Linked DNA regions of Homo sapiens. The protein of the gene in region 1 interacts with the protein of each later gene in a pairwise test. Each region holds a gene or a part of one and is shown in the gene's direction. Other genes may lie near its edges. The genes, in order: MS4A13, SLC16A2, TLCD4, SLC18A1 and EVA1A.

Region 1 (4,291 bases):
TTATAGGTACTGAGAAAATCAATGTTGCTTTTACTGATCTGTGATATTAGCAGAAGAAATAAGATGTACCAAGGAACCATGCCTGTCTCATAGTTTGGCTCACTCTTCTATTTTTGCCTATGTTTATACTGAAAACACATTTTGGCCCCAGTCCAAAAAAATGACCAAATCCATGATAATTTCCAGAGACTGTTGGCCAAAGCTTAAATGAAGAAATATGTCACTTCTCTCACAAATAATCAATCAGTCTTGGCAGCAAGTTACAATAGCGGTCCATCTCATCAGAACTGGCTCTTACTACTATGGATTCTAAAAAATCCATAACCCTGAGGTTGAAGACACAGTTCCTCTTTCTACAGCAAAGAGAATGCTTAATATTATCGGAGCCCTGTCTGCTCATAGACAAGGAACTCACAAAATAATAATAATGCTAGAAACTGAAGTGGTATATTACTTAAGAATAAAACTATTACCTTCAATGACATACTGACCAATACAGAATGTAAAGACTTTAGAAGAGGCTGGGCTTTTTTTTTTTGTTTTTTTTTCCTTTGATTTGAGGGGACTTTGGAGTCTCAATGTAAGGAAGCTAGCTGTGAGACTAAAAATTAAGATTCTCAATTTACAGTTGATTTTTCAGGCTATAAAAGATCTTGATGGCTTTTAGACACACTCATGATTTAGCTTTTTGCAAATAAAGGTGTTGAAAGCATAGAAAATTTCCTTATGAAAGAAAAATCTGTCTTGTTTTCTGCGTGTTTTACTCACTGGCTATCATTGACTAAAAATTTACACTACAAGCTGGAATTTTAACTATTCCACAATGTCAATTTAAATTTTCCATGAATAAATGAGAAATGCCATTGAGTGGCTGTTCTCCAGGTACTTTAAACGCCTCAGTAAGTCATGATAGCTGCCTAAGAGGATGGTCTGTACTGCTCATCTAAAGCACCTCTTCATAAACACTGTTTTAACTACTGTCTACACCTCAAACAGAAAACTAACACCACGTGTCACCTAAAAGGTAAACCCGCCTCAGCAAGTGGATCAAAAAGTCATTCTGGTGTCTTGTTAAGTATTACTTTCATCACTAATTTCCTTCTTCAGTTACTTATGTTTAAAGAAAAAAAAAGTGAGCCATTGATTTAGCCACTTCACTCGAAAGTGCACCTTCCAAAGGTGCTCTTGTGGTCAAAATTTTTCTTTGAAGACAGAAAAGGTGAAGGGCGGACTTCTCCTCAGTGATCCTGGTCACTGTGCAGCAGGTGGGTGTATAAGAAATGCACCAATATGGGCAATCTCAGAATAGAGGTTTGCAGAAACCGTTCCTAGAGGCACCAAAACGTAGTTAACCGGGTGTCTGACCACATGGCTGCCAGGAGCCTAGTGAGTCTGCGCACACGCACTACCTCCGCCCCGGCAGTTCCTGAGTGGGTGCGCAGGCGCAAGAGGAGCACACCGTTGCCATTGCAGACCGTCACTCCCTGAGGAGCCTGAGAGCCGGCCGGGTGCTGGGCTCCTGGCTATCCCTGTGATGGTAGCTCAGCGAGATCTGGGGACCTGGCGCTGAGCGCGTTGCCAGCCGGGATCTTCCTCTTCATCTAGGCCTGGGCGCTGGCGTGAGAACTCGGACTGGGTCCTGGACGAGCGCCCCCCGAAACTCCTTGGAACCTTGAACAAGTAAAATGCAGGGTAGTGATGTCGCTTTGCTGGAGTGCTTTCGTGTCAGAAGCCATAAAGGGACACGGAGGCTGATTACGGTGTTCCTCTCCCTATCATACTCTGTAAACAGTAGGCACTATTTACTACTCAGAGATGATAGCTGTAAAATGCCGATATGTTTTAGTCATAGAGAGAGACTTTTCAGTTATGAAGGCTGTTATTCAGAACAGATGGATGAAAGTTGATGCCTCTAATATTAAGGCCTAGAAAGAAGAAAGAAGGCTATTGCTTCTGAATTTGGAGAGGTGGTGACTGAACAATAAGGAAAGGATCAAACTTACGTATTTTCTTCTAAGAAAATAATGTATATGTGCTTTGTACTGTTTTGTAGAAGTTTGCTAATAAAGACATCACCAAAGGTTAAAGAGAAAATCATCTAGAGGAAATGCTGGCAGTATGGCATGTGTTCTTTAACAAATCTCTACAGCAGATTCTCTCGTTTTAGGGGTAAGATTTCACTTTGACTAACTAAATTTAAGATCATGAACTATTTCATTTTTTTAACGGATATATTGGATCTAAAGGGGGACAGACTTGGTTAAATCAAAAGGGTAAAAGTTTTTTTTTTTTCAAATGTTGATTGTCTTCTACAAATTTTGACTGATCTCATGTTCCTTCATGTGCTGAGATATGGGGATACAGACTAAACCAACACACACAGGATAATAGAGAAATCCAAGTAAGGTTTAAAAGGAAAAAAGAGAGTACTGCACTTACATTTATGCAGTAGGATGATTATAAATTTGTCTCTTCTATTAAGTTATAAACATGTGAAGTTACAGTTTAGCTTTCTTAATGAACACCAAGGAATTATGAGTATCATGCTTTTTCACATCCAAAGGGGAGAAAACATTTCCACTCGTGAACTTTTCTTCTGAATTTGAATGTTGCATAGATCAATTATCTAAGTCGCCTATACGACTGTTCAGCAGAGGTTCTTAACCTCTTTGGGGTCACAGACCATTTTGGCATAGAATGAAAACTCTGAATCTTCTTTCCAGAATTATGTACATGTCACAATCCTTCGCATTTTTTTTCCCTGGGGGCAGGGGGTAGGCGGGTCTGACCTCCTGGAACTCATATTGATTCTAGATTAAGAATCATTTTTAAATAAGAAAACCTATCTTGTCCTTCTCCACACACTGGCAGTTCTTAACAAGCATTGGCTAATTAGCTATCTCATGGTTTTATATAAAACAATAGTCAATCATTTAAAAAGAGATAGTACTTTTCAAGCTCACTTACTTTTTTAACAGTTGGGAAAGTCACATGGAATCACTATTCTTGACACCAGTATGCTTATATAAGAGGTATTTGCTGGATGCCTTCTCTATTCTGGGCACCATATTAGAGGCTGGTGATAAAACAATAAAAAAAAAAAAACTCCAGGCCCTAAGGGATTTTGCAGTCTAGTGGGAGATATTTCTCCAGGCAAATCCAAAGAATTTCTGGAAAATTACCATTCTTGCAAATTTGATGCAAGGGGAAACGTTAAATTCTAAATCTATAAAAATGCATGATCGTTACCAAAAAAGAGACTTTTTCTTAAAAAAAAAACAAAACTTCTCCAAAATGTATTTTTTAAAGTTAGCCAATTGCACTTATATATTTCATAGACTGCCTGCTTTGCAAAGAGCTGGAACTCTTAAAACATTAAATAGCTTTCTGTTTAAGTTTATATGAAAATAAAATTTATGTGTCCTCTGTCATTTTTAAAGAGTAATCAAAAATGTGATTAAATATATGAAATATCAGTTCACATATAAATTCAGAAATAAATTTGCTGGGATTATAATTATCTTCTTACAAATTAGAGTTGAGTAATAATTCTCCCCTATTCAAAATCCTTCCCCTTTCCAATGGGAAAACCGAGTTCAAGCGAGTCCATTTTGGATATTTTCTGTATTGCTGTGTTGGATTATGCCCCACTCCAGCATACTTGTGAAAAAAATCATACCAAATACTCCTTGAAGGAAAAGATAAATCAAACCTTTATAAAATTCAAAAAGTGATTCATCTTTAATAAATTACTAATGTACAAGAAAATGTTGGATTTATGGCTTCCTGCATTATAGTAGATTAGTAACCACATTTTCTCTGAAGTAACCCCAATATTCTCTCATACCATTACTTGATAGGTAGGGAGACTATCCAGTGATAGAATCAAACTGTTAACTTACAGGAGAATTGGCCAGAGCTACTATTATTGAACAGCCTGTTGCTTTCAGTATGACTGATTCCTATTTGGTAAATCTCAGTCCTTCCTGATCGGTCCTTTTTTCTGGGATAACCAATCCAGGAAATACATCATTAAGTGCATTGCTGTTTTACTTTTGTATTTGTAAAGGTGTTAAATGCTTCTTATAGTTAACACTTATTGGAATTGTGTTTTAAATTACATTATTTCGGTACTAACATAATTCTCTTCTCACAGACTATCCAGATTATGATTGGCATCTTTCACATTTTCATGTGGTACTTTCTATTGGTTTTGTATATGGGACAAATTAAAGGAGCCTTTGGAACGTATGAACCTGTAACTTACAAAACAGGATGTACTTTATGGGGA
Region 2 (3,518 bases), on another chromosome or scaffold:
CTGTTTACTCAAAATTTCCCAGCCGTCTGTGCCACAGCACTGGTGTCTCAAAGGGATAGAAGAAGCTAATAGAAGTTTGTGTCATTTTTATCAGCCAGTATTTGTCCAATAGCCATTCTGGGAGAAACAGAATGTACACCCCCACGCTCAAGGAATTTGGTGCATCGTCCATTTTTATTAATATCTGACATGACTTCCATCTCTAAGAGTCTATGAATTTGGTGTTTGGAGGCACCTCGTAACCCAATTTCTCTTTGACTAGGCCTAATATCTTCACAGACCTAAAGCTGTGTTGAGTGGCTTAATGGGTGGAAGGTCCTGCAGATGATTGGGATTGTTGTGAGGAAGCCCCACAGAAAGGTAGTTTCTTATACTTTATTTTTAGAGATGGGATCTTGCTCTGTTGACCAGGTTGGAGTGCAGTGGCGCAGTCATATTTCACGACACCTTCAAACTCCTGGGCACAAGCAATCGTCCCACCTCAGCTTCTCAAGTAGCTAGAACTACAGGCATGCGCCACCACACCTGGCTAATTTTTATTTATTTATTTATTTATTTAAAAACAGACTCTTGCTATGTTGCCCAGGCTGGTCTCAAACTCCTGGCCTCCAGCAGTCCTACTGCCTCAGCCTCCCAAGTAGCTGGGAAGAAAGGTAGTTTTGATGTTTGAGGAACAGCTCCACATCAGAGTGCCTCTGGGCATGGGAAAAAGCCACAGAAGTTAGAAGGGATATGGGATTCAGGCCTTACTAGAGCATGCAATGTGCAGTTTTTGTGGACCCTTTGATGTATACAGTTTTGTGGTGTCACCAGCTGTATATCTTATCCCCTCTCTTCACCAGTTTTGGAGGAAAGCCAACTTTCCCTGGGTCCTAGGCTTGGGTGGATTGGCAGGCAAAAGGTCCCTGAGAGGGAGGCAAGTGATCAAACTCTGGTTTAGTGAAAAAAGGAAAAAGATCAGGAGGGAAATGAGCCTGTATTTCTTGCCAAGATCATGGGAAATTTGTGAGTTCCCCAACCCAGACCAAACAGCAGACAGGACAGGAGGCAACCAGGCAATTCTGTGGAAAGTAAAGGCCCAAGCATAGCTTCTTGGGGTGGTAGGGAAGCCTTTTGGAGGAAAGAGGGGAAAGAGAAGCAAGACGCCATTGATTGTAGGCCCCAGCTCAATATTGGGACCCTAAGTGAGTTGGACCTGCAATAGGGTTAGGGTTGGGAGTTCAGAGGACAAGGCAGAACAAGCCAGAGTTGCTAACATTGGCTCTATGCTTAAGTCTTTTTAAAAGTACTCCAGAGTAAAACTTGACTGCCGGTCCACCATTGAGCCAAAAAATATGGAAGGCATTTTTGTTTTACTGGGCAGTTTATAAGCATGGTCCTTGTAAGCTCCCAAGGGGGGTCAAGGCTGAGGCTCTCATCACCAGAGAAAGGGACAATGGTCAGGAAGGTTCACTACTAGGCACAAGATAGTTCAGGCTGATGGTCCACTCTGATGGAAACAGAATTTTCTAGGCATGGGGAAGAATGATACACTCTGCCTTTGGGTGAACCAAGAGTCCCAAGGTTGGGTGGGGCCAGGTAGAGTAGGCTGTCTTTCTCCTTCTCACCTTAGGGGTTTTCATTGCTTGGTTCAGTGTCTCACTGGACTGTAACACTAAATTGCTGACTTTGGGAGCAAAGTGTATTTTGAGCAAATCTGCCAATCTCTTGACTTCAGCTGAAGGCTCTTGACTACTGTCCAGCAGAGCTAGATCAGGTTGGCTTAGCGCCTGCTGTGGTGCTTCAAGCCACACAGCCCTTGGCCAGGCATCTCTCACGTCATTCCCCTGCCCCCTTTCCAACCAAATGGGATCTTGAACTATGACCATGACTGATACTGAAAGGGATGAGAATAAGAGATTGGGTCATTTGGAGGCCAACCAGGAGGATGCTTGTTTGAGTTGGGGTAGCTGGTTGAGGCTGGATGCCTGGATCACTGTACAGTGGCCTCAAATGCTCATTCTAAGTCTAAAAAAGCAAGACCCAGGGCCAAATCTGGACTCCCCAAAGCTGGCAGTCTCAGTGATACCAGCTAGGCAGTAACTGTGACTTAGACAACTTGTGCCCCTAACTTATTCTGTGACTTTGGACAGGCACTTCACCTCTCTGTATGTCAGTTTATCTATCTATAAAATGAGAGGGTTTGACTAAATAAACTTTCTAGCCCTACCATTCTATCCTTCTAAAATTATGTGATATCTTATTCTTTACTATTCATATGTCATACATTTTGACTCATTTAAGTAAATAAAAGTTCGTTAAGCTGCCTGAATGACAGTGAGGATGGATTGGGAGAAGATTGGGAAAGCAAGGAAAAGCCCTATATACATCATTTCCCCACGTCATTTGTATTTAAAGACTATGGGGCTGCCCATGGGTATAGATGTGTTTAAAAATTACCCAATCCTTTTTACCTAGTATGTAAGGGCAACCCTGCATGTGGAGCTGCTTCTTCCAGAGTGTCCTGATTGGTATAGAGCTGGGTCTCCAAGAGAACTCCCTGGATTTGGCAGGCAAGCAGGGTGGGTCTGTATGCTGCTGTTTTCCAGCGTTTGAACCTGTTCCTCAAAAGTATTAAATTATAAACATTTCCTCAAGCCTCAGTTTGGACCCCTCTTCTGAAACTGAATTTCCCACAGCACAGTCTTATTTCTCAGAAATGCATAGTCAGTGTGACCTTGGTTTGCTGTTACTTCCAGCTAGCAGAGGAAACGGATTCCTAAATGAGGTTCCCTTCAGAGGTCTTCAAACAGGGCGTTTTGATAGCTGGCTCAGGGCCACTGCCTGGATCCTGCTGTGGTGGGGTTGGGGAGGGTTGCTACTGTGATCCTGGAGAAGGCCCATTAGATGCCCACAATCCCTGGTCAACTGCAGCGTCAGGGCTTAGCTGAGAGTGTGCCTACGGAAGTAGCAGGCACAGAGCTCTCTTTCCTTTTCCTTGGAAGTCATTGGCCGTATTGCCTCCAGCCCATGAAGAGTAAACAAGCAGCTGGACTGTCAACATTTGTAGAAGTATATAAAGGATGCCATATCAACCTTTTGAGCAGACCAGTTTCCCAGGAAGATGCACTGCTTTTCCCACCAGCCTCATTTTATGGTTTTGTTGCATTTTGAAAAGATGAAAACTACTCTTTTCAGATTGTGTGAATGACGGAGTGGGATTTCCTGTCTTGAAAGGTGTTGTCTCACTTGAGATTGAATGAATGAACCCTAGAGAAAAGGCTTTGTTCTACACATATACACATGTGCGCAAGCGCATGCGCACGCGTGCACGCGCGCGCACACACACACACACACACACACACACACACCCATACCCTACACCCTAAGCCATAGATTATGAATATTCCATCTGAAATAAGTCATTTCCCATCTGTTCATGGAATTAGGTGTACCAGAGGCTTCTGTAAAGATTATGCTGTACTAGTGCAAAGGAACCAGACTAAGAAGCTTGCTAGGCGAGAGTGATGAAAAGAGTA
Region 3 (3,518 bases), on another chromosome or scaffold:
GCTTGGAGCCAAGGGTAGTGGCCTTGCCAGTTGCCATCTGGCTGCACAAAAGTCTGTCAGCTGCATCATCATGTATGCATTTATCTGTCTTAGAACTTTTAACCAATAAGTGATTCACCAGTTCTCTAGCAGGAAATTGTAGGCCTTGGTATCTTCCTCCTTCTTTATTCCAAAGTAAAGCTGTGGCCTTTGGATTTCTAAATGGCAAGAAATGGCAATTTTGCATTATACTCTCCGTTATACTTCACACCTGTATATAAATGCTTCCAGGTATAACTTGTTCAGAATGTTCTGTGTCTTGTCAGGATTAAATTTTATTGCAAAGAATCTAAAATCTTTGTGTGTATTTTGTTTAATTTCAGGGTAGTATCCACATGCCATTCTTTGGTGGTTGGTATTTTTGGCCTGTACATTTTCTTATTCGATGAGGCTACTAAAGCTGATCCACTTTGGTAAGCTGTTTCTTTTTCTAAGATTGCCAATTTCATTTATGTTTTGATATTAATTATTTATAAGAACATCACTTACTTTAAAACAGAAAACATATTGATCGTATATGCCTTATTAAAATGCTTGTGCTCAGACATTCTAGCAAAGTGCATTTAAATGATTTATTTTAGATTTGAACACAAATGAAGGCCATTTTGCCTTAGTGTAGCAATTGTTATCCAAAACAAGGAGAATATGATGATAATTTAAACATTTTTACTGTGTTAATGAGTAAAGCCAAGTTATTGTAGTCACAGTTCTGAAGAAAAATAAATCATTATTGAGATAGGGTAGTCAACTTGGATAATATCTACTTAAGACTTTTTTGTCTCCAATTTATGTTTGACTCATTTGATATCAAAGAGATGAAATGAGAGTTACAGATGGCCATGTGATAGGAATTTAGTACCACAGGATTTGAAGCACTAATGCACTAATAATAACTGTGTTCAGTAGTAATAGGATAACATGTAAGATGGTCCTTTTAGAAAAATTTAAATGTCATTCCAATGGCAGAAATTTTGCAAACTGTTTCCTGGTGTTATATGAGAAGGCTTAGTTCAGCTTAGTTTGAGAGAGCAGGCATGTTTGAAGAAGCACTGCACTGAGATGAGGTAGTTGTGGGCTCCGGGGGATGTAGGGCAATTTAGCCTTTTCTTTTGACCACCACCATTTGACTGCAAGGACGTTTTTCTATTCATAAATATAAAATTATTCCCAGAAGAATAATATCAGTATTGATACATTTTCATTGGGATGCTGTTTTTCAAAGAGAATTAATTTATTGAATTTAATTCCATGACTAGGTTTTTAAATAGTCTACCTACAAAATTTCTAGCTTTTTAAAAATTTTCGTTTTCATTTTACTAACGTGACCATCAGCAAAATAAAACCAGTTCTTTTGGGAAGTAAATTTCATAACAAAGATTTGATTCATTGTTCAAGTTTTGCCTTATCGAACTTTAACATAATTTTTGATTTGAATTTTATGTCATGATTTACTCCAGGTCAAATTTTCCTGGTTATATTTACAGATCAAAATTTGTAAAGAAGGCACAACTTGTGCTAAATCTTTCTATTAAATATTTGTAGTCCAGCTATTTTAGTTAGTGTTACTTTCACTAGTAGTTCACTTTGTAACTATCTTACTATGTAAGATAACAGCAGTAGTTACCTTACTGCTAACACCAGTACCACATGATGCGTCACAGTTTGGCTAAACTGTCATTGTGTGTTTTGCAATTTTATTTGAAGATGACAGCTTACCATTTGAGAATCTATAGAAAGCAATTTTATTATATTTAAATCTCTATAGAAAAAAGAAGTAGCGGTCATCTACAATCTATATACTTTAAAAAGGAACCTTTTTTTTTTTTCAGGGGTGGTCCATCACTTGCAAACGTGAATATTGCTATTGCCTCAGGCTACCTCATTTCTGGTATGTGAGATGTTGTTTTATTGTCTAATTCCTTGTAAACTACTCACGGAATTATACAAAGAATATATAGTCTATGCTTTTGGTTTATTTGAGAGATAGCATTTAGGAAGCATACAGAGGAAAAAAATACCTCCCATGATGGTAGAACATGAAATGTCTTTTCATGAAATGGTTTTCTGTTTCTCACTGAAGATCAGAGTTACAGAGTGATGCCTCAAACAACTGAGGCCTGGACATTTTTTATCAGCAAGGATATGGTCCCTCTTTGTCCTAATGAGGCTCTTAAGTGTAATGACTGTGAAACTAACGAAATTTAACTTTTAGGGTCCCTCACTTGCAAGAGTTCTTGAAATGTGTTCCAGTAGTCATGGTTTTGTGTTGTTTTTGTAAAATTTGCAGAAGTAAGCTTTTTTCTTTGTTTTTCTTTTTAATAGTTATAGTTTTTGGTGGCGTCACTATTTTGAATTAGTATTTAATTGCATTCTTTTTTATTTTTAAAATATTTTTTGTACGATTTGTTTTATAAATGAGTTGGTCATTTTGTACCTTCCCTATGACCATCTTATCTCTGTTTGAATTATTGTAGTGACAAAAATCAGTCACTTAAGCTTATTTAAAATTATTTCTATTCAATAATATTTTTTGTTTATTTTAACTCTGGAAACAAGTTATTCATTTATGCTTTCAACAAATATTATATTACATATGATTAGGTTGGTACAAAAGTAATTGCAGTTTTTGTGATTAAAAATAATGGCAAAAATCACAGTTACTTTTGCACCAACCTACATGCCAGGCCTTGTGCTAGATTCTGAGGGTTTAAAGATGCTCACAACCTGGCCCTTGTCTTAGAGGAGCCACAGGAGTGTGGATGAGACAGGCATATAGGAGCAGAGATTTTATGGTAAAGTAGATAATCAGACTAACTGAGGGATGAACAAAGTGCTGTGGGCTCAGAGTGGACAGTGATGAGTTGGCAGGAGAAAGAGTTCAATACATTTGAAAAACAGTGCAACTTTCTTCTTATGTAATACCTTACTCACTTTTCTTTCTTACAGATTTGTCCATTATAATTTTGTATTGGAAAGTGATTGGTGACAAATTTTTTATAATGCATCATTGTGCGTCCCTGTATGCATACTACCTTGTACTGGTGAGTTCCAGGATTTTCTGTAGCCTAACTAGCAGACAAGATTGGGAATAGTGATGTAAAGGTGAACATAAATCTAAACATACAATTCTTAGTTTTTAAAGACCATCTCCAGATGCATTCAGGGATTGCTTTTGTGGTATGCTATCTTCTGTATTAACTAAAATAATACCTTTATGTGTGTCTGTGTTGGTGTTGGTGTGTCTGTTTGTATTCATAGATTTTGAGACAGACAAATGACCCTAATTCTTTGAATTTCCATTTAAAACCTTCAGGATTGTTGTAGCTATAGATATTTGTCTGTATTTCTAGATGCATTTATGATTTAACAGCAAAGAGTATGAGCCAGCGAAAATATTTCTTTTCTGTTTAATTCCATGTGCAATTACATATACATAATTACATTTAAGTAGGTTGGAGCAGTGGAGAAATCTTGCTCAG
Region 4 (3,518 bases), on another chromosome or scaffold:
ATACAGTTACAAAAAACTTGGCAGACTTGTATCCATAACCTAGGACTTCATGGAATGAAGAACTTAGAGGCAATAAACTAGGATATCTGGCAGAAGAAATATCTAAGCAGCAAAGCTTCAGGCTGCTTTGTGGCTGTTTTAACTGCATATATAGTGACATGTGAAAGCAAAGAAATGATTTAAAGGTGAAATTTATGGTTAAAAGAGAAACAAAACAGAAAGACTTGGAAAATTTGCTGCCTGGCCTTGGAAAGAAAGAAAAGGCATCTTTAGGAGAGCACACCAAGACTGTGGCCAAGCAACCTAAAGTGATTAGTGTGGATAAAAGTGAGCCAGGCACCACTTATTAAGACTGTGGGAGAAAGACCCAAAGGCATTTTAGAGACCTTCGAAGCTGTGCTTCCCATTACTGGCCCAGAGATGTAGGAGGGCAGAATGGTTTGGGAATAAGCCTGGGACACCCTCCATGGGCTCACTGCCCAGGACCACCTTGGGACTCTGCTCTCTGCGTTTCAGTGCAGTGCCCCTCAACTGTGCCAGCCATGGCTCAAGTGGGCCCAGATGTGGCCTGGCCTCCCACTCTGGAGGGTGCAAGTGGTAAGCCTTGGTGGTGTCTATGTGGTGCAAATTTTGCACGTGCGCAGAATGCAAGAGCTATGGGTGCATGACTTCTTCCACCTAAATTTCAAAAGATGCCATGCACAGCCACTTCCAAGATCACGGAACTGTAGGGGCACCAGCATGGTGGCCTGCAAGCACAAGACTCCAACCCATGATTGCTGCTGGGTAGACTCAGCCCGGAAAGACCACAGACATGGGGCTGCCTGATGCCTTAGGGGTCCAAACTCCACTCCAGTGTGCCCAGGATTTTGGACATGGAGTCAAAGGCAATTATTCTCCAGCTTTAAGACATAATATTGTTTTCTGTTTTGGGCTTTGGACTTTCGTGGGACCTGTTACCCCTTTCTTCTTCCCTGTTGCTTCCTTTTGAAATAAGAATGCCTGTTCTATCTTTGTTCCACCATTATTTTTGAAAGTAGGTAAATTATCCCTTGGTGTGCATAGGAGAGTGGTTCTAGGACTCCTCACGGATACCAAACTCAAAGGATGTTCAAGTCCCTTACATAGAATGGCATCGTATTTGCATATAATCTACACACGTACTTCCATGTACTATAATCATTTCTCAATGACTTGTAACACCTAATGCAATGGAAATGCTATATAAATAGTTGTTATACTGTATTATTTTCTTTTTTGTATTATTTTTATCTTGTACTGTTATTTTTATTTTTTTTCCTCATATATTTTTGATCTGCGATTAGTTGAATCCAAGGATGTGAAACCTGCAAATACAAAGGGCCAAGTATAATTTGTTTTGATTTCACACGCTCACAGCTGGAGGGAATTTGCCTCAGGATTAATCGTACCTTGAATCTCACCCATAACTAATTTAGACAAGACTCTGGATTTTGGACTTTTGAGTTTACACTGGAACCACTTAAGACTTCTGAAACTATTGGGATGGATTGAATGCATTTTGCATTGTGACAAGGACATGAATTTTGGAGGCCGGGGGTAGAATGCTATGTCCTCCAAAATTTGTGTGTTGGAAACTTAATCCCCAATGCAACAGTGTTGAGAAGTGGAACCTTTAGTAGGTGATAAAGTCCTAGGGGCACCACCTTTATGAATAGATTAAAGCAATTATCATAGGAGTGGGTTAGTCACAAAAGGGGGGAGTTTGGCCCCTTTTTCTTTTCTCTCTCAAATGCCCTTTCTCCATGTGATACCCTTCGGCTGTATTATGACCCAACAAGAAGTCCCTCACCAGATGGCCAAGCAGATGCTGGTGCCATGCACTTGCGATTCCCAGCTTCCAGCATTGTGATCCAAATACATCTTTTTTCTTTAAGAATTACCCAATCTGTGGTAATATGTTACAGCAGCAAAAATAAAACAGACTAAGACCAACTTCAGTTTTTTAATTTGTAAAAAAGTAGGTATTTTTCAGAGTCATTTTCATCTGGAATCCTAAATGGATTAGCCCAGTGCGTGGAATACAGGATACTATCAGTAAATAAAAAATTATTTGTACAATTTTACTTTAAACCATTTTGATAGTCACAAAATGTGTAATCCCTCACCCCTTAGAGATTCACTGTGAAAAACAGATGTTTTTCATGCAGGGGTCATGTATCTATAAATACATATTCTGGAGCACCTATTTTGCACAAAATACTGCTAAAATGTAAGCTATAATCAGGTCCTAAAGAACGAGCAACGTGGATTGAGAAAAATCTAATTAAGGAAATTTTACACCATTTAAAATGATGTCAAGGAGGTGTATCTAGGAGGCTGTAGGCTTCCTAGAGGTGCTTACTTCCACATACTAGATAAACAATTGAGTAGTTTTAATTTTTTTAAGCAATTAAATATAAACGAATGGGTACAGTTTGCAACAGATTGCCACCTGTCCAGGATAGCCTACACAAATACACTAAGGTGTGCTTACTTCTACTCCATAGAAGAGAATATTAAAAGCAAACAAGTTGTCAGCCAATAAATGGTTGATTGTTGACTTTTAATTTAATTGTAATTGCCATGGTATTTTTTGTTAGCCTGCACTGTTTTTTTCTAGGTATAGAGAGGGATTAAAAGGGCTGGTGAGATCCAGACAAACTCACTCTGCTGATCTCAAACAGTTCCTTATACCAGAGCCATCTGTGCTACCACGCTGGGGGTGTGGCATAGTGGAAACACTTGGAGTTAGAGTGAGATGGCCTGGACTCAAGTCCTGACATGCCACTCACGAGTTATGATGATAATAATCAAGACCAGTGCTTGTAGGGCCCTTACTCTGCGACAGGCACGATGCAAAATGTTTGATATGCACTATTTTGTTTAAACCTCACAACTGGCCTGTCTGGTAGAAATTATGATTATCCCCATATTTCAGAGATTTCTTTTCTTTTCTTTTTCTTTCTTTTTTTTTTTTTTTTTTTTTTTTTTTTTGGCAGCTGCAAGATTTAATAGAGTGAAAACAGAGCTACCATATAATGGGAGGCGGCCCAAAGGGAATTGCCACTGCTGGCTGGAATGCCTGGGGTTTATATCCCGATCATTGTCCCTCCCTCTGTGCTCTCAGGTGATAGATTATTTGATTATTTCTTTACCTCCTGCTTTTAGCCTAATTGGTATTTTAGTGAGCTCTCTTTACTATGTGATTGGTCAGGTGTGAGCTGAGTTACTAGCCCCTTGTTTAAAGGTGGGTGTGGTCACCTTCCCCAGCTAGGCTTAGGAATTCTTAATTGGCCTAGGAAATCCAGCTAGTCCTGTCTGTTAGTACCCCCTCTCAACAGGAAAACCCAAGTGCTGTTGGGGAGGTTGGCTGATGACCGCTCTAACTGCTTCCTGCCGAACTGGGGCATAGTAGGGGTCATGCAGTTGAAAGTTCCTTGAGAGGGGTGCTTTCGATGTCATCAACATTGGAGCATGGGCTAGCAGGCCAGTCCAGG
Region 5 (3,518 bases), on another chromosome or scaffold:
TACATATCAGCATTTCCAGGATTCTAGTTCCTACAGAGCTGTGTGAGACTTCATTTCATGGCCCATCTGGGCATTGCTAGAAGGAAACAGAATTCCCTCCCTTCCTGTTCCAGAGAGGCTGGCCTGCAAACTTCACTGATGAGGGGCCAGATTGGGACATCCCACACTAGCTGTTTTGTGGATTTTGGCTGACAGGAGCAGAGAGGAAGCATGTTTCTTTGATCTTTTACCTCTTGCATCCTTTCTGGTATGACCCTGGGAGACTGGTTTATCTGGCTGTCTAGTTCAAATTCCAGATTACACTCTGTCAATGGGCTTTCTCCTCTCTGGGGATGCTATTCATCCTTCCAAGGATCCAGACACTAGCCACCAAAGCTTCTCTGCTGGGTTCACACACATACCAGGTCTAAGGTATGATGTGATCTCCTGGGTATATGATGGTTTTTGTGCTGCTTCTTTTTTCTTTCAGAGTCTGAGAAGCCAACTGGGGCCAAACAAGTTTTAGAACCTCTACTGGCTGATGCCAACATCATCAGAGATGAACTGTTCTTACCAGAAACTTCTCTGCTCCTGACACCCCACCTCTCCCCAGGTAGCTAAAGGGATAATGAGATTATTACCCCCTGAACACTATGTATGGGGGTGACATACCAGGGGACACTCAGTTCCAATTGCAATATCATAGGCACAATATTAGAAGAATATTTGGACACTTTGATAGCCAAAGAAAGGCATTTGGAAGATTAATAGGGGGCTTCACTGCAATAGGTCTTTCCTTTGCTTAAATCATGAATTTTTTATTAAATTTTACACAAATACATTTTTTCATCTATTCATACGATCTTTTTCCTGTTAATCTATAAATATGGTAGAGTACACTTATTTACAATCCAATTTTTAAAAATAAATGCAATAACATCTCTTACTTAAAATTAAGCCATATCATAATGTGATATGAATTAGAATTTTATTGACTTCAAATTTAATACCGCTAAAAGATAACTCTGCCATCATTCTTATTAACTTAAAACCAAAATTTGATTGCAAGATTCTTTAAATAAAGTAACCTTCAAAATTCCCTGTTTTACCTCACCAACACAATTTTTAAATTGTGGTAAAATACATATAACAAAATTCGTCATCTTAAATTACTTTTAAGTGTATAGTTCAGTGGCATTAAGTATATTTACATTATTGTGCAACCATCACCATCATCCTTCCCCAGAACTCTTTTCATCTTGCAAAACAGAAACTTTGTACCCTGTACCCTGTTCAATAATTATCTTTTCCCTGCTCCTGTTCCTGACAACCGCTACTTTCTGTCTCTATGAATATGACCACTGTTGGTGCTTCATACATGTGGAATCATATAATACCTGTCCTTTTTGACTGGCTTATTTCACTTAGCCTAATGTCCTCAAGTTTAATCCATGCTTATGCCTTCCTTTTTAAGGCTGTGCGTAATATTGCATTGTATGTGTAGACAACATTTTATTTATTCATCCATCTGTGGATGGACATTTGGGTTACTTCCACCTTTTGGCTATTGTGAATAATGCAGCTCTGAACATTGGTGTACAAATTCTGTTCAAGTCTCTGCTTTAAAATCCTTTCAGTATATACCCAGAGGTGGAATGGCTGGGTCATACAATAATTCTATTTAAACATTTTTTAAGGAATAGTCATCCTATTTTCCACAGTGGCTGCACAATTTTACCTTCCCATCAACAGTGCACAAGGGTTCCAATACTTATTTTCTGATTTTTGATAGTAGTCATCCTAACGGGTATGAGATGATATTTCATTGTGGTTTTGATTTTGATTTCATTAATGCTTGGTTATGTGGAGCATCTTTTCATGTGCCTATTGACTACTTGTATATCTTTGGAGAAATATTGCTTCAAGTCTGTTGCCCATTTTTAAATTGAGCTCTTTGTTTTTAGTTGTTGAGTTGTAGGAGTTCTGATATTAGGAATTAGGATAGGTAGCAGTCTGGATATTAACCCTTTATCAGATATATTATTTGCAAATATTTTCTCCCATTTTGTGGGTTGCCTTTTTACTCTGTTGTGCCCTGTGATGCACAGAAGTTTTTAATTTTCATAGAGTCCTTTTCTTTTTTTTTACTTTTGTTGCCTGTGCTTTTGGTGTCATATCCAAGAAATCATTGTCAAATCCAATGTCATGAATCTTTACCCCTGTTTTCTTCTAACAGTCTTCTAAAATTTTTAGCTGTTACATTTAGGTCTTTGACACATTTTGAGTTAATTTTTTATATAGTGTAAGGTAAGGGTCCAACTTCATCCTTTTGCACGTGGACATCCAGTTTTTCCAACACCGTTTGCTGAAAAGGCAGTCTTTTCCCATTGAATGGTCTTGGCACCCTTGCAAAAATAATTTGAACATATATATATGTAAGGGTTTATTTTTGGATGTTCTATTCTATTCCATTAAGCTACATGTCTGTTTTTATATGCTAGGCCTACACTGTTTTGATTACTATAGATTTATAATAAGTTTTGAAATCAGGAAGAGTGAGATGTCTAACTTTGTTAATTTTCAAGATTGTTTTGACTGTTTGGGGTCCCCTGAGATTCCATATGAATTTCAGTATGGATTTTTTTATTTCTGCAAAAACATCATTGAGATTTTGGGACTGCCATAAAACTTCTGAATTCTTTCTTATAGGAAACATTTGCCAGACAGATGAAGAGAAGGGGGGCATTTAGGCAACAGGAAGAGTGTGACCAAAAGCATGAAGAGGTGAAAGAGCTTGCTCTACTTGGGGGAACTAAAAGTAATCTAGTATTGTTGAAGCTCTAAGCATTCTTATTATCTGTGTGTATATGTGTGTGACTGTCAGCTTGGATAGGAGATACATTAGGAGGTAAGGCAGAGGTCAGATATTGTGAAAGTGGATGTGTATTGTGTTAAGAGGTCAATGGAAATTCATTAGAGTTGGGTTGTGGAGTGATGTGATCATATTTGTACTATAGAAAAATGACCCTGTTAATAAGAATGGGTGCTATATTGAGAAGGAAGGAGGTATCATCAGAAAGACCAGGTAGGAGATTGTTGCAAAACTCCCAGAAATAAAATGATAAGACTTGCAATCTGGTAACATTAGTGGAGACAGGAAGGAGGGAATGGTTTTGAAATACACATGGCTCACTACAAACTCAGACATATTCCAGTAGCTTCACTCTTTTCCTGGGTCTTGAAGTCCTCAGATCTGTAGAACAGCCTCTGAACTCAGTTTGATGGCTCTCACCATTCACGTGTATCATCCAGTTGCCACCTTTTAGGAACACAAATGACTGTTGAAAGAGGCGCTGTGTTCTGGCTCAGCGGCTCAAGGGTCCCTTAACAGCAGCCAGTCTCTTTTCAAAGTCCCTGGAGCTCCCACTCCTTCTCCTGTCACTCTCAGAGCCTCTGGCCGCTCCAAGGACTTTATGGTTGTTTCTTTGTGCCTGTGAGTTGGTTGGTGTTTTCTTGTTTTGGTCTTTCCTGAAGCCTGC

What was found.
Region 2: the proteins of MS4A13 (region 1) and SLC16A2 interact in a two-hybrid assay, tested with the Homo sapiens proteins (one large-scale study listed by BioGRID).
Region 3: the proteins of MS4A13 (region 1) and TLCD4 interact in binary tests that used the Homo sapiens proteins (3 or more experiments, as listed by UniProt).
Region 4: the proteins of MS4A13 (region 1) and SLC18A1 interact in binary tests that used the Homo sapiens proteins (3 or more experiments, as listed by UniProt).
Region 5: the proteins of MS4A13 (region 1) and EVA1A interact in binary tests that used the Homo sapiens proteins (3 or more experiments, as listed by UniProt).

Annotation. Positions count from the first base shown.
Region 1 is NC_000011.10:60,513,916-60,518,206, forward strand, and holds the start of MS4A13 (membrane-spanning 4-domains subfamily A member 13), read left to right. Parts: upstream 1-1,476; 5' UTR 1,477-1,692; intron 1,693-2,053; 5' UTR 2,054-2,169; intron 2,170-4,156; 5' UTR 4,157-4,168; coding exon 4,169-4,291. UniProt on the Homo sapiens protein: May be involved in signal transduction as a component of a multimeric receptor complex.
Region 2 is NC_000023.11:74,424,493-74,428,010, forward strand, and holds part of SLC16A2 (monocarboxylate transporter 8), read left to right. Parts: intron 1-3,518. UniProt on the Homo sapiens protein: Specific thyroid hormone transmembrane transporter, that mediates both uptake and efflux of thyroid hormones across the cell membrane independently of pH or a Na(+) gradient.
Region 3 is NC_000001.11:95,148,340-95,151,857, forward strand, and holds part of TLCD4 (TLC domain-containing protein 4), read left to right. Parts: intron 1-362; coding exon 363-452; intron 453-1,868; coding exon 1,869-1,927; intron 1,928-2,985; coding exon 2,986-3,080; intron 3,081-3,518. Other genes in the region: TLCD4-RWDD3 (TMEM56-RWDD3 protein), read left to right, coding at 363-452, 1,869-1,927, 2,986-3,080.
Region 4 is NC_000008.11:20,159,132-20,162,649, reverse strand, and holds part of SLC18A1 (chromaffin granule amine transporter), read left to right. Parts: intron 1-3,518.
Region 5 is NC_000002.12:75,519,439-75,522,956, reverse strand, and holds part of EVA1A (protein eva-1 homolog A), read left to right. Parts: intron 1-469; 5' UTR 470-592; intron 593-3,518. UniProt on the Homo sapiens protein: Acts as a regulator of programmed cell death, mediating both autophagy and apoptosis.